Linked DNA regions of Homo sapiens. The protein of the gene in region 1 interacts with the protein of each later gene in a biochemical or structural test. Each region holds a gene or a part of one and is shown in the gene's direction. Other genes may lie near its edges.

The links.
Region 2: the proteins of RNF19A (region 1) and UBE2L6 form a complex in vitro, tested with the Homo sapiens proteins (one study listed by BioGRID).
Region 3: the proteins of RNF19A (region 1) and UBE2L3 form a complex in vitro, tested with the Homo sapiens proteins (3 studies listed by BioGRID).
Region 4: the proteins of RNF19A (region 1) and UBE2D2 form a complex in vitro, tested with the Homo sapiens proteins (one large-scale study listed by BioGRID).

The regions. Positions count from the first base shown.
Region 1 is NC_000008.11:100,289,454-100,292,953, reverse strand, and holds part of RNF19A (E3 ubiquitin-protein ligase RNF19A), read left to right. Parts: intron 1-3,500. UniProt on the Homo sapiens protein: E3 ubiquitin-protein ligase which accepts ubiquitin from E2 ubiquitin-conjugating enzymes UBE2L3 and UBE2L6 in the form of a thioester and then directly transfers the ubiquitin to targeted substrates, such as SNCAIP or CASR.
Region 2 is NC_000011.10:57,557,673-57,561,172, reverse strand, and holds part of UBE2L6 (ubiquitin/ISG15-conjugating enzyme E2 L6), read left to right. Parts: intron 1-740; coding exon 741-836; intron 837-3,500. UniProt on the Homo sapiens protein: Catalyzes the covalent attachment of ubiquitin or ISG15 to other proteins. Functions in the E6/E6-AP-induced ubiquitination of p53/TP53. Promotes ubiquitination and subsequent proteasomal degradation of FLT3.
Region 3 is NC_000022.11:21,622,124-21,624,534, forward strand, and holds the end of UBE2L3 (ubiquitin-conjugating enzyme E2 L3), read left to right. Parts: 3' UTR 1-1,911; downstream 1,912-2,411. UniProt on the Homo sapiens protein: Ubiquitin-conjugating enzyme E2 that specifically acts with HECT-type and RBR family E3 ubiquitin-protein ligases.
Region 4 is NC_000005.10:139,616,839-139,620,338, forward strand, and holds part of UBE2D2 (ubiquitin-conjugating enzyme E2 D2), read left to right. Parts: intron 1-3,500.

The DNA.
Region 1 (3,500 bases):
TGAAATTGGTCCTGGTACCAAAAAGTTTGGGCACCGCTGCACAAGAAAGATTGAAAAGTACCAGAAAGTAAATATGTAACAATTAGGTTTCATCCTCCAAAAGAAGACTTGGTAAGCTTATAGAGCAATGGAATAATTTATAAATAAATAAATAAATGTCTCAAAAATAAGAAATTAAAAAATTAAATCAGTATGTATGTAGGGGGTGGGGCATGGAGGAAAGATCATTATTCAGTAACTGGTGTTGAGGTAACTGGCTAGCCATTTAGAAAACAAATTTTGATCTCTACTTATTCATAAACTATCAAATTACCAGTAGAAAACATGTGAAGGGATTTTAAAAATATAATCTTAGAGTGGGCAAGGCTTTCTAAGGCTGGTGTAGAAGTCAAAAGTCAGAAAGATATGTGAATTTGAGCACGTTAAAAACTTTTGAAATTTCTACATTGGAAAATTGCCATATAGTCAAATACAATTTATACGTACACACACACACACACACACACACACACACACACCCATATGATAGCAAGCCTCTTTATTAAATAGAACTATGTCTTACACATCAGTAAGGAAAAGTGCTGCAGCAGGATATAAACATGTGCCTAGTGCACAGAAAGTGAAATGTAAATGACTTGTAGTGAGACAATACTAAAAATATCTTTGCTATCAAAGCAAATGTTCCTCGTGGATTCCCAATCTCACATGCAAATACATAGCCATTAAAGTTAAATTTGTTTTTTTTATTCTTTATTATCTTCTCAACATAAGCATGTGCTGAAGTTTAATAGCTTGTTATTCTTTTGTAATACAGAATACAGCATTTAACATAGTATTTTTTATTTGTCTTCTTTATTGACAGTTTCACTTGAGTATAGAATAGCTTTAAGCTTCTGTAGTGACCAAGTTAGTGATCAGTAGAAACTCTGCTGGGAATTATCTGTACCTATTCCATCTTTACTTGAAAAAAAAAAAAAAAAAAAAAAGACTTAGTCCTCTTTCTGTTCAACAGTGCTAGTAAATATTGTCACATGCTGTTTTTATTGCATGCTTATTTTAGAAGTACCATACATCTGGATGTCAGACATCTAAAAAACAAATTAAAATTAGAAGACATAGGTACACTGCTCTTACATTTAGTATTTTGACCATCAGCACAAAATTACTGGATTTTCTCCATATTTTAAGCTGTTTGAGAAGTGACAGAAGAAACCTAATTTTAGCTGAATAACAGAAGCAAAAACTGTTATTTGACCATGTAGTAGGTTTTCCTCTTGGGAAGTAAGTGTTTTCTGTGTATGCAAACTTTTTGCCCTGCCTTCTTCATTTCCAGAATACCTTTCTAATGATGTGTAAATCATTTAGGCAGATAGGTGGCTATTAGATGCTGCTGAAGTGTTTATGGTTAGATGTTTATTGGTGGGATATTATAAATGTATAATTCTTGAAGTTGTAGTGTCAGGATACTTAACATGTTTTACGAATCCTGAAGCACTTCTGAAGGTAAAAGGTTCTTGTCTTTCCACAGTTAAAAAACTGGATGTAGTAAGGCCGTATGGCTTAAGGATCACAGAGTAATAGCAACTGAAAAGCATCATTCATTCATTTAATACTAAGCACTTGCTATAAGGTACACATTTTGTAAAGCACTAGGTTATCTTACATTCCATTTCAGCTAACATTTAGTACGGTGCCGGGTTTGTTAGGCAGGTTTAACACATGTCAATTTCATATTATTCTTAGAACATCTATTTGAGGTGAGTGGTATCATCCATATTTTGTGGTCCTGATCACTGATTCAGGAATATATCTTACCTAGGATATGATAACAAAAAATAGCTGAGCCAGGTCTTTTGACTCCCAAGTTCTCTTCTTTATACATACAATACTGGATGTTTTTTGTTTGCATGTCCAGATCTACTCTCATTCAGCCTTCTCTACCCTGCTCTGTGCCCCAGGAGGTTGACCTCTAAGGACTGCCTTAGAGGCAGTTGGCTTCTGGTTGGATTTACCCAGTGTGAGGCACTGGCAGGATATCGGAGAGCCAAAGAAATGAAACATCTGTGTTTAGGTACACAGATATCATTGTGTTGCAAATGCCTCCAGTATTCACTACAGTAACATACTGTACAGGTTTGTAGCCTAGGAGCAATAATCTATACAGTATACCCTAGGTGTGTAATAGACTATAACATCTAGGTTTGTGTAAGTGTGCTCTGTGATCACACGACAAAATCACCTAATGACACATTTCTCAGAATGTATCCTGATCATTAAGTGATGCATAACTGTATTTGTATAGATTGAGCTCTCTGACTGTTCCTTATCTATCCTGTGTTTGTGAAGGGAAATATAAACCGAGGGACATGAGGTGAAGTTTGTTTGAGTGAAATGTTTTTCCAGAGAACACATGTTAATTAGGAGGTCAGCCATAGGAGGAAAAAAACACATAGAAAAAGGCACATTAATCATGAGTTTCTGGGTCGTGTATGTATCACAAAGTGAACATACCTTTGTAACCACTATGCATACTGCACATATTAAGAAAGTTTGGCTGGGCACTGTGGCTGACGTCTATAATCCCAGCACTTTGGGAGGCCAAGGCGGGCGGATCACTTGAGGTCAGGAGTTCGAGGCCAGCCTGACCAACATGGTGAAACCTTGTCTCTACTAAAAATACAAAAATTAGCCAGCATGGTGGCGCATGCCTGTAATCCCAGCTGAGGCAGGAGAATTGCTTGAACCCAAAAGATGGAGGCTGCAGTGAGCCGAGATTGCTTCACTGCACTCCAGCCTGGGCAACAGACACAGACTGTGTCTCAAAAAAACAAAAAAAGTTCCCTTTGTGCCTCACCACAAAATGTAGCCACAATCCTGACTCCTAACATTGTACATTAATTCTCTCTGTTTGGAACTTTTTATAAATAGAATTATACCACATACTCTTTTGTATGAGAGTCCTGTCTTGTGTGTAGCAGTATTTTATTCCTTTTCATTGCTTCATTGCTTTAGAGTGTGAATATACCACAAATTATGTATTCATTCTACAGTTGATAAAATTATGGGTTGTTTCCAATATTTTGAATATTATTACTAATGCTATTGTGAGCATTGTTAAGTATGTCTTTTAATGTATGTGTACATTCATTTTTCTTATGCATTCCTTTCTAGGAGTGAAATTGTTGGGTAATAGGGCATCTCTGTGTTCCAATTTGATATTGTTAAACAGTTTTCCAAAGTAATTGTGCCATTTTACACTCCCACGAGTAGTGTAAGAGAGTTCCTATTCTTCCACATCCTTGCTAACACTTGGAAATGTCAGTCTTTTAATTTTAGCCATCCTATTAGGTGTGTTGTCTCTGAATGTGGCATTAATGTGTTTTTTCCTGATGACTGATGATGTTGAGCACTTTTCATATCCTTTTGTGAAATGCCTGTTAAGTCCCCTGCCCGTTTTTCTATTGGATTGTCTATGTTTTCTTATTGATTTGTAAGCATTC
Region 2 (3,500 bases), on another chromosome or scaffold:
AGATGCTCAGTCGATGCTTACGGAAGGAAGAAAGGAAGAGAGGAAGGGAATTAGAACCTAGTGACTTTCTAGGAAGAAGGCTAGAGAGCAGAGGTTAAGTACCCTGCTTTCAGGAGAAAAGCCTCCTAAGAGCACTTACTCCCAAGTTTTAATATCTGGGAGAAGTGATCTATTTTTCCCTGCACCTAGTACCTAGGTGTACCAGAGTTGTGGTGAGGCCACAGTCAGAAAATTCACTTAAAGCACCAGCACCGGCTGGGCGCGGTAGCTCACGTCTGTAATCCCAGCACTTTGGGAGGCTGAGGCGGGCGGATCACGAGGTCAGGAGATCAAGACCATCCTGGATAACACGGTGAAACCCCGTCTCTACTAAAAATACAAAAAATTAGCGGGGCGTGGTGGCGGGCGTCTGTAGTCCCAGCTACTCGGGAGGCTGAGGCAGGAGAATGGCGTGAACCCAGGAGGCGGAGCTTGCAGGGAGCCGAGATTGCGCCACTGCATTCCAGCCTGGGCAACAGAGCGAGACTCTGTCTCAAAAAAAAAAAAAAAGAAAAAAGAAAAAGCACCAGCACCATGCCTGATACATACTAAGTGCTCAGTAAATGTAGGCTCTGACTTTACCGGCTTCTGCCCCTAAGATGGCCAGTTTTGAACTTGGGGCAGCTTGCTGCTGGGGCAGGGGGAGGGGGCTGAAATAAGGAGGACTAGGCCAACTGCCCACTCACTTGTGTCCCCTGCAGGAGCTGGAGGATCTTCAGAAGAAGCCTCCCCCATACCTGCGGAACCTGTCCAGCGATGATGCCAATGTCCTGGTGTGGCACGCTCTCCTCCTACCCGTGAGTATCCATGGGGACCATGGCTTTGGATTGGGGCCAAATTAGGCCAGGGACATGGGCAGGGAGGGTTAGGACTAGGCAAGAATTTTCCCTGCTTGAGATCCTTTTACTGGAGGTTATCATTGCTGGAGGGGGCTTCTCTCTGAATTGATTGCTTCTGAGATCCAGATACTTCTGAGGTTCACCTTCTGATAAAGATGCCAAAGGACTTTTGACTTAGTAGGAGACCCCTTCCTTAAACCGGTAGCCACCAAGCCCACCACAGAACTTCAGGAGACAAACAGCATCAAAAAGAAGAAGAAATAAAGATTTCTTGGACCTTTGTCAAGGGGTAGGGATAAACTTCCAGGCTCTCACAGTTGGGAGAATTTGCTCCCGCAAACCTAAATTGTATTTTGTTTTTCTGTAGTCTTATTTCAGAAAATTGTTACATATGAAAACACAAATAGCTCATTTCTACTGTTCTTATTTTTCTCTGTTTATTATTTGGTATTTTCTTGATAAAGTCTCTCTGAAAGCAGTATTCCAAAATAGTTTTCAGAGTGCAAGATCTCTCTTTTTTTCATCCGATTATTAGTGACTAAAGATACTTTGAGAAATTAATCTACACTTTTCATTACTTGGAAATAAAATTTAAGACATTGAACTTTTTGTTAGTCAAAGCTCTTTGGAATATCAAAGGAACAATTCATCTTATCATTTAGGATTTGGACTTGTTTTTTTTTTTGAGACAGAGTCTTACTGTGTCACCCAGGCTGGAGTGCAGTGATGCGATGTTCGTTTCCTGCAACCTCCACTCTGGGGTTCAAGCGATTCTCCTGCCTCAGCCTCCTGAGTAGCTGTGACTACAGGCACGTGCCACTATGCCTGGCTAATTTTTGTGTTTTTAGTGGAGACAGGATTTTGCTATGTTGGCCAGGCTGGTCTCAAACTCCTGGCCTCAAGTGATCTGCCCACCTCGGCCTCCTAAAGTGCTGGGATTACAGGTGGAGCCACCACACCCGGCAGGATTTACTTTTTATTGACAATGCAGTGGCCTAGGTTGTGTCGTCTTCTCTTTAAACTGACCTATAGTCCAGAAAAGTAGAGAAAGGCCTGAGTCAGGTCAACATGGGAACCTCTGTCAAGTCCCTTGGGTTACTGTGTTGAAACGATCCACTTACCTGGCTTAGAGTGAGGACACCTGTTCTAGGCCTCAGGTGCCGGGAGAAGATGCTCAAAGGAGCTCCAGGGACTGATTATATCTCCAAGGAGACCAACTTTGAGATGATGAAAGCAGGGGTGATAGGAAAACCTAGGAAAGGTCTCGTTTGGCAGAGTACTATGAAATCAGAGGACCTCAATAGTTGGCAAGACCAAGGTGGTTAAGTGCGCCCCAGGAACTGGCCACAGACCTTCCAGCCATATAGGAGTCCTGAAGAAACATGATACTTGGGAGGAATCCCAGAGCTGGAGGACCAAAGCTTGATGTAAGTCATCAGCTAAGGGGGCCTGAAGGTGCCTGGTGAGGCCATAAAGGAGGGGATGGTTGACTGGCAGAGGAAGGAGAACCAGGAAAGGTCTTTTGGAATAGCACACAAATTCCTCCTCAAAGGCTCAGTCTCAGTTTATGTGTTCACCAAAGTGGCCCCACTTGTCACATCTTGGTCATGGAAGGATTCAGCTCGATGAGTCTTTCGAAGCTAATAGTAAAATTCTCATTCCTTGAGAGTTTCCTGTGGACCAAGTGCTGTTTTAAGCACACGACATATGAGGTCATATTGAATCCTCTCAACCATCCAGTGAGGAAGGTTGTCTTCCTCTTAAAATTGCAGAGATGGAAACCAAGGAGGTTAAGTAACTGGTCTGGGGTCACTCAGAATAAGGTGGCAGGAGTGGAATTCAGCGGACTCCAGGGTCTTCTCTTTTAACCACTCCATGAAAAATGAATAGTTTTCAAAATTTTTTAAAAAGTAGCAGGCCGGGCACGGTGGCTTACACCTGTAATCCCAGCACTTTGAGAGGCTGAGGTGGGTGGATCACTGGAGGTCAGAAGTTTGAGACCAGCCTGGCCAACATGGTGAAACCCTGTCTCTAGTAAAAATACAAAAATTAGCTGGGCATGGTTGTGGGCACCTATAATCCCAGCTACTCAGGAGGCTGAGGCACGAGAATCACTTGAACCCGGGAGTTGGAGGTTGTAGTGAGCTGAGATTGGGCCATCGCACTCCAGCCTGGATGACAAGAGCAAAACTCTGTCTCAAAAAAACAAAACAAAATAAAGTAGCAAAATCCTTTATTTAACCTAGAACTTAGAAGGTAGTGGGACTTTCTCAACTGACTGTAAGATACAGCATGGAATCCTCTGGTCCAGCTTCTCCATTTTACAGACGAGGAAACTGATCCTCAGAGAAAGCTCAGTCATACAGCAAGCCCGAGGCAGAGCTGGGACAGGTCCCCGGAGCTCTCAGCTCCATGACTCTGCTACCTCCTTCCTCTGTTAAGTCCTACGAAGCCCAGAAAGAAGCCCCTTCAGGCAGGACACACTGATACCCCTGTCTTAGTCCATTAGTGTTGCTGTAAAGGAATACCCGAGGCTGAGTAATATATAAAGAAAAGAGGTTAATTTGGCTCAAGCTTCTGCAGGCTGTACAAGAAGCATGGCGCTGGGCATGGTGGCTCACG
Region 3 (2,411 bases), on another chromosome or scaffold:
GCCCTGGCGGTCCTGGTGGCTTTTCTTAGCATGTGTGGCACTGTTGCCCAGTGTGGGAGTTGGTTTAAATTCTCCTGACTCCAGTTTATAACATCCTTTTAAAAAATTTAAAAACAAACAGCCACACCCCTCCTCCAGTCCTTCTCCTCAGTTCTTGTGTGAAACTCCAGCTGATGTTACCACAGTAACATCAGTTAATTGGGCAAGCCCTGATGTCAGTGTGTGTAACTGACCTCTGGCCTGGCCTGCACAGAGAAGCCCTATAATCACAGGTCTGTGGTGGCCCCGAAATGGGGGGCCTGCTAGTCAGGAGGATGCTGTGCACACTGTGTGTGATGAATCTCGCCAGAAAGGCTCCTGAGGTCCCAGGTTGGCACTTCTCCCTGCAGCCATTGTAGAAGATCTGCTGGTCCTTGCAGGCAAAGCTACAGCCAGAATGTCCGTTTGAAACTCCTAGCTCATCTGTCACCGAGCTTCATCCGAATGTGCCACGGAGCTTGCTCTCCACTTCCTCCGTGCAGTGGCCCTGCCACAGCCCTCCCTCGGCACACTTTGACCCTTTGTAGGATTGGAATTAGCAGGACTCGGCTATTTAAAGCACCAGTCTGGGGTCGCCTGGGCCCCTGCTGACCCCCTCCTCCAGAGCAGCCAGCCCAGCCCGGGAACAAGACGGACTTCCTCTCCCTTCGGACTCACAGCCTTTGCAGAGTCAAGCTCCACTTGAAGCTCACTCAGTAATATCCTTTCAATGTGTTTTATATTGTTTTGACTGCCTTTTTTTGTAGAAATAAAAATTGACCTTAGAATTTATCGTCAGATAAACTTGTAAAGATTTGAATATTAATGTCTTTTCAAGGCAAATGGGATTGTCCCCGCACTAGTAGAGAATCCATGTCGCTCTGACACCCCAAGGAAGCCGACGATCCAAATGCCGTGTGTCACCAACCCCGCTTCTGCCACTGGCGGCTTCCCTTCTTGGCTCTTGGGGGGGACTAGATCCTGTGGAGAAGATGACTTAAACTTTGCTTTTTGTTTTAATTTTAATTCTATAACTTGAGATCTTTCCGGGGCCTACAGGCGTGTAAGACAGCTTGGTCTGGTCTGTGCAGAAGTGGGGAGTGATGGGCAGGTTCGGCAGCCTAACATTGTTCAGGCGCATGGCCCCTGCGGTGTGTACACGAACTCGGCTTCTTTTGTCCTAGGTACGCCAAGGGCAGGTTTCTGGAGACTCCCTTGTGCCCGGGATGGCAAGGGCACCGGGCTGGCGTTTCCACATCTGTCTTCATTAGCAGAAAAGTGATGATGGATTTTATTTCACTCACACTCCAGTTTGTAATAAAATGCCAAATTCTGTCAGCTATCCAAACAAGCCACCATTTGTTCTTGTTGCTTCTCTGGATCCAGAAATGTTGCCATTCTTGGAAACTGTCCCATTGCTTCGTATTTCTGCCAACGTAGCTCTGCCTGCCTGTCAACCCCTCACTGCACTCTGCTCATCACGGGAGGATACCTGTGTGCCGGCAGCCCCTCAGGGACTCTCAGCCCTGGCACTGGCACCCCAGGGTTGGCCCCGTCAGCAGAGGCTTGGCTTTCGAGCCAGTGGGTGTCTCTCCTTTGGGCCTGGGCGGCTTGCTCCTGCCAGCCATGCCTTCAGGGTAGGCTCTGAGCAAGCTGGCGAACAGCCCTGGCTGCTCCAAAACCAAAAAGCTGGGTCCTCTGGAGGAGGGGCGAGCTGTGGAGCAGCCACCCACTGCTGCCCCAAGCTCACTCAGGAATTCACACCCGCCTGGTTTCTTGAAGTGTGCTGGGTCCTTCCCTCTGCTCCCTACTCCCCACCACGGCAGAGAATAGGCTTTCTAAGATGCTGCGATCCCGTTCTGCTGCCCGTAATAAAAATGCTCTCAGACACTGGTTAGTCGTGTGGGTTTCTTCCTTCCTGGGAGCGGGCAGTGCCAGGGGCCTATGCTCTTGGAGATGGGAGGGCTGGCTGGGGCCCAGGTCCTGGGGCTTCTGATCTCTCTCCCCATTCCCAGCCTCTCCAAAAGAGGTACATAGAAGTGTTCCTGCCTCCCTAGAGGGAAGGAGATGAGGTATAATCAGCAAGAAAGCCGGAGACTTCAGACAGTCGGGGCCTGCAGAGGGCGCTCTTGGGCGTCTCGTTGAGGGGACAGGGACTAAAGTGTGGGTGCATCACTTACATGCGTGGGTCATCCTGGAGCCTCCTGGGAGTGTTAACAATCCATGTTTAGAAGAGGCAAACCTGCGGTCCCAAGAGGTCACAGAATTGATAAGGGTGTGCCTGTGGGTGGAGCTGGGCCATGTCCATGAATGGTGCCAGCCAGAAACACTCTGAGTCCCCAGTACAGCCCACTGCCAGGGTGCTGCGGCAGTGGTGCTAACTCAGCAAGGGC
Region 4 (3,500 bases), on another chromosome or scaffold:
CTTACAGTAGAGGAAAAAATAGATCGGTTCCAGCACATGCATTTAAAAGAGTATTGACCCTGGCCAGGCATAGTGGTTCATGCCTGTAATCCCAGAACTTTATGAGGCTGAGATGGGCAGATGACTTGAGACCAGGAGTTCGAGACCAGCTTGGCCAACATGGCAAAACCCCATCTTTACTAAAAATACAAAAAATTAGCCAGGTGTGATGGTGCGTGCCTGTAGTCCCAACTACTCAGGAGGCTGAGGCGGGAGAATCACTTGAACCCGGGAGACGGAGGTTGCAGTGAGTCAAGATGGTACCATTGCACTCTAGCCTGGGTGACAGAGGGAGACTTTGTCTCCAAAAAAAAAAAAGTATTGATCTTTACAAATATTGTGAAAATAGGAAAATACTGTGCTTGAGAAAAGCAGAAAAAAGAAAAAAGGCATATACACTGTAACAAGAGTTACATATAAAAGTATGTTGAGTGTCCAGAAATAGACAAGCAATGTTAGTTTTGGTATTTGTGTGGTGAAATGTGGTGTGTGATTTTTTTTTTTTTTTTTTTTTTTGAGAGGGAGTTTCGCTCTTGTTGCCCAGGCTGGAGTGCAATGGTGTGATCTTGACTGACTGCAACCTCCGCCTCCCGGGTTCAAGCAATTCTCCTGCCTCAGCCTCCCAAGTAGCTGGGATTACAGGCACCCACCACCACGCCTGGCTAATTTTTGTATTTTTAGTAGAAATTATCTGCTTATAATTTACCATTTGAACCATTAAGTAGAAATTATCTGCTTATAATTTACCATTTGTTTAATGCATGTATTTAGACAGGAAGCAACATAGTTTCATGGTAAAGAACATAGATTCTAGATCCAATTGCCTGTGTTCAGATCTCAGATCCACCTCTTATTAAATGAGGCTAGAGACACATTGGCCCCTGTATTCCTCAGTTTTTTCATCTGTAGAAAAGGAACAATAATACATATTTCATTGTTGTTACGAAGATTAAAGAAGCAAAAACAGACAGTTAACTGGTTCCTTGTAAGTACTCCAAAAACTGGGGATAAAGGCACAGTTGTCAAAAGTGTTGGGTATTTGTCATGTTATCACTTGGATGTCAAGACTCAATCTTAAAAAAAAATTATTATTATTATTATTTGTTTTTTTTTGAGAAGGAGTTTCACTTTTGTTGCCCAGGCTGGAGTGCAGTGGCGCAATCTCGGCTCACCACAACCTCCACCTCCCGGGTTCAAGCCATTCTCCTGCCTCAGCCTTCTGAGCAGCTGGGATTATAGGGCATGTACCACCACGCCCAGATAATTTTGTATTTTTAGTAGAGACGGAGTTTCTCCATGTTGGTCAGGCTGGTCTCGAACTCCCAACCTCAGGTGATCCGCCCGCCTCAGCCTCCCAAAGTGCTGGGATTACAGGTGTGAGCCACTGCTCCTGGCCACAAATTAATTTTTTAAAGCAAACAAAACTCTGAGACATTAATTTAAAATTTTTGGAGTCCCAGGCAGAAATAAAAACAGGATGCCAGAGAACCACATTTTTTTAAAGTTATTACAACTTTAATGAAATAGTTTTTTAGAGAAGTGTCCCCTTTTCTTTTGGTAGGCCCCCTTACAATTCAAGAGCTACTTGAGAAAGTGTTTGTGGACCTGTGCCTGGCCTGGTGAGGGTCCCATTGGTTGCACTTCCTTCACCAAATAGCAATAGAGATGTAAATCTAGTAATGGGACCAAGATAAGTAGAATTGTGTGAGAGGTGTGTGTTTGGTGGGGTGAGGTGTTGGAGACACAAGATAGCTGAAATTATTGCCATACCTCTTTTTGTTCTTCCCCTTGCCTAGCGTTGATTTTTTTTCAGCTATTCCAAATGATAAGGACTGTTACAAGTCTGATTTGTTAGGTTCTCTCTATCTGGATAGCTATCCTTTAAAATAGTTGCAGTGCCATTTTGTTGAATTTGATTGTATTAACTGTCTCAGATTTAAGGTTTTAATGAGTCCCTTTTTGTAAATTGAATGTATGGGCAAGTAGTTCTATGAAATGCCTTAATCCTGTATATGATATTATTCCTTTAACATATAGTCTGTCTTCAAGGACAGAAATTTTGACCCAGTATTCACTCTACTTTGAAGGTCCGTGATGGGGACCTAAATATTTAAAAAACAAAAACAAAAACACTGAAAAAAACTGAAGGGAAGCAGATAAGTGTGCCATAAAGCCATTTGATTATATGTTTTTAGAAGTGAAAGTAACTGTTGCTGTAACACTAGTGAAAAAGTAATACTGGCCAGGCGCAGTGGCTCATGACTGTAATCCACTTTGAGAGGCCAAGGAAGGTGGATCACTTGAGGTCAGGAGTTTAAGAACAGCCTGGCCAACATAGTGAAACCTGATTTCTACCAATAATACAAAAATTAGCAGGGCAGGGTGGTGTGTGTCTATAGTCCCAACTACTCGGGAGGCTGAGGCACAAGAATCACTTGAACCTGGGAGGGAGAGGTTGCAGTGAGCCAACATCACACCACTGTGCTCCAGCCTGGGCAACAGAGCAAGAGTCTGTCTCAAAAAAAAAAAAAAAGTAATACTGATGAAGAATATATATAGGTAAAAGTTCAGTGAAGAGACTATACAGGTTATAGAAATAAGAGTTACTATCTTTACAGAAGAAGGTATAGTATATGTATCAGTCCATTCTTGCACTGCTATAAAGAAATACCTGAGACTGGATAATTTATAAAGAAAAGGGTTTTGCCAGGTGCGGTGGCTCACTCTTGTAATCCCAGCACTTTGGGAGGCCGAGATGCGCAGATCACTGAGGTCGGGAGTTTGAGACCAGCCTGACCAACATGGAGAAACCCCATCTCTACCAAAAATACAAAAATTAGCCTGGCTTGGTGGTGCATGCCTGTAATCCCAGCTACTTGGGAGGCTGAGGCGGGAGAATCGCTTGAACCCGGGAGGCGGAGGTTGCAGGAAGCTGGGATCGCGCCATTGCACTCCAGCCTGGGCAACAAGAGTGAAACTCCGTCTCAAAAAAAAAGGAGGTTTAATTGGCTCACAGTTCTGTGGGCTATACAGAAAGCATGGCAGCATCTGCTTCTGCGGAGTCCTCGGGAGCTTTTACTCATGGCAGAAGGCAAAGGGGGAGCCACCTGTCTCACATGGCAGTAGCAGGACCAAGAGAGAGATGGGGGAGGTGCCACACACTGTTAAACAGCCAGATCTCATGAGAACTCTATCACAAGAACAGCACCAAAGGGGTCGTGCTAAACCATTCATGAAGGATACACCCCCATAATCCAGTCGCCTCCCACCAGGCCCCACCTCCAACGTTGGGGATTACAGTTGAACATGAGATTTGTGTGGGGACACAGATCCAAACCATATCAGTATATTAGAAACCAAAATGAATTCTTCATGAAATCAAGAAGCTAAGTAGTGTACTAAAAATCTTTTCACAAGGTCCAGATAGCCAGTACTCTCCTTTCCTGGAAAGAAAGAAAAGC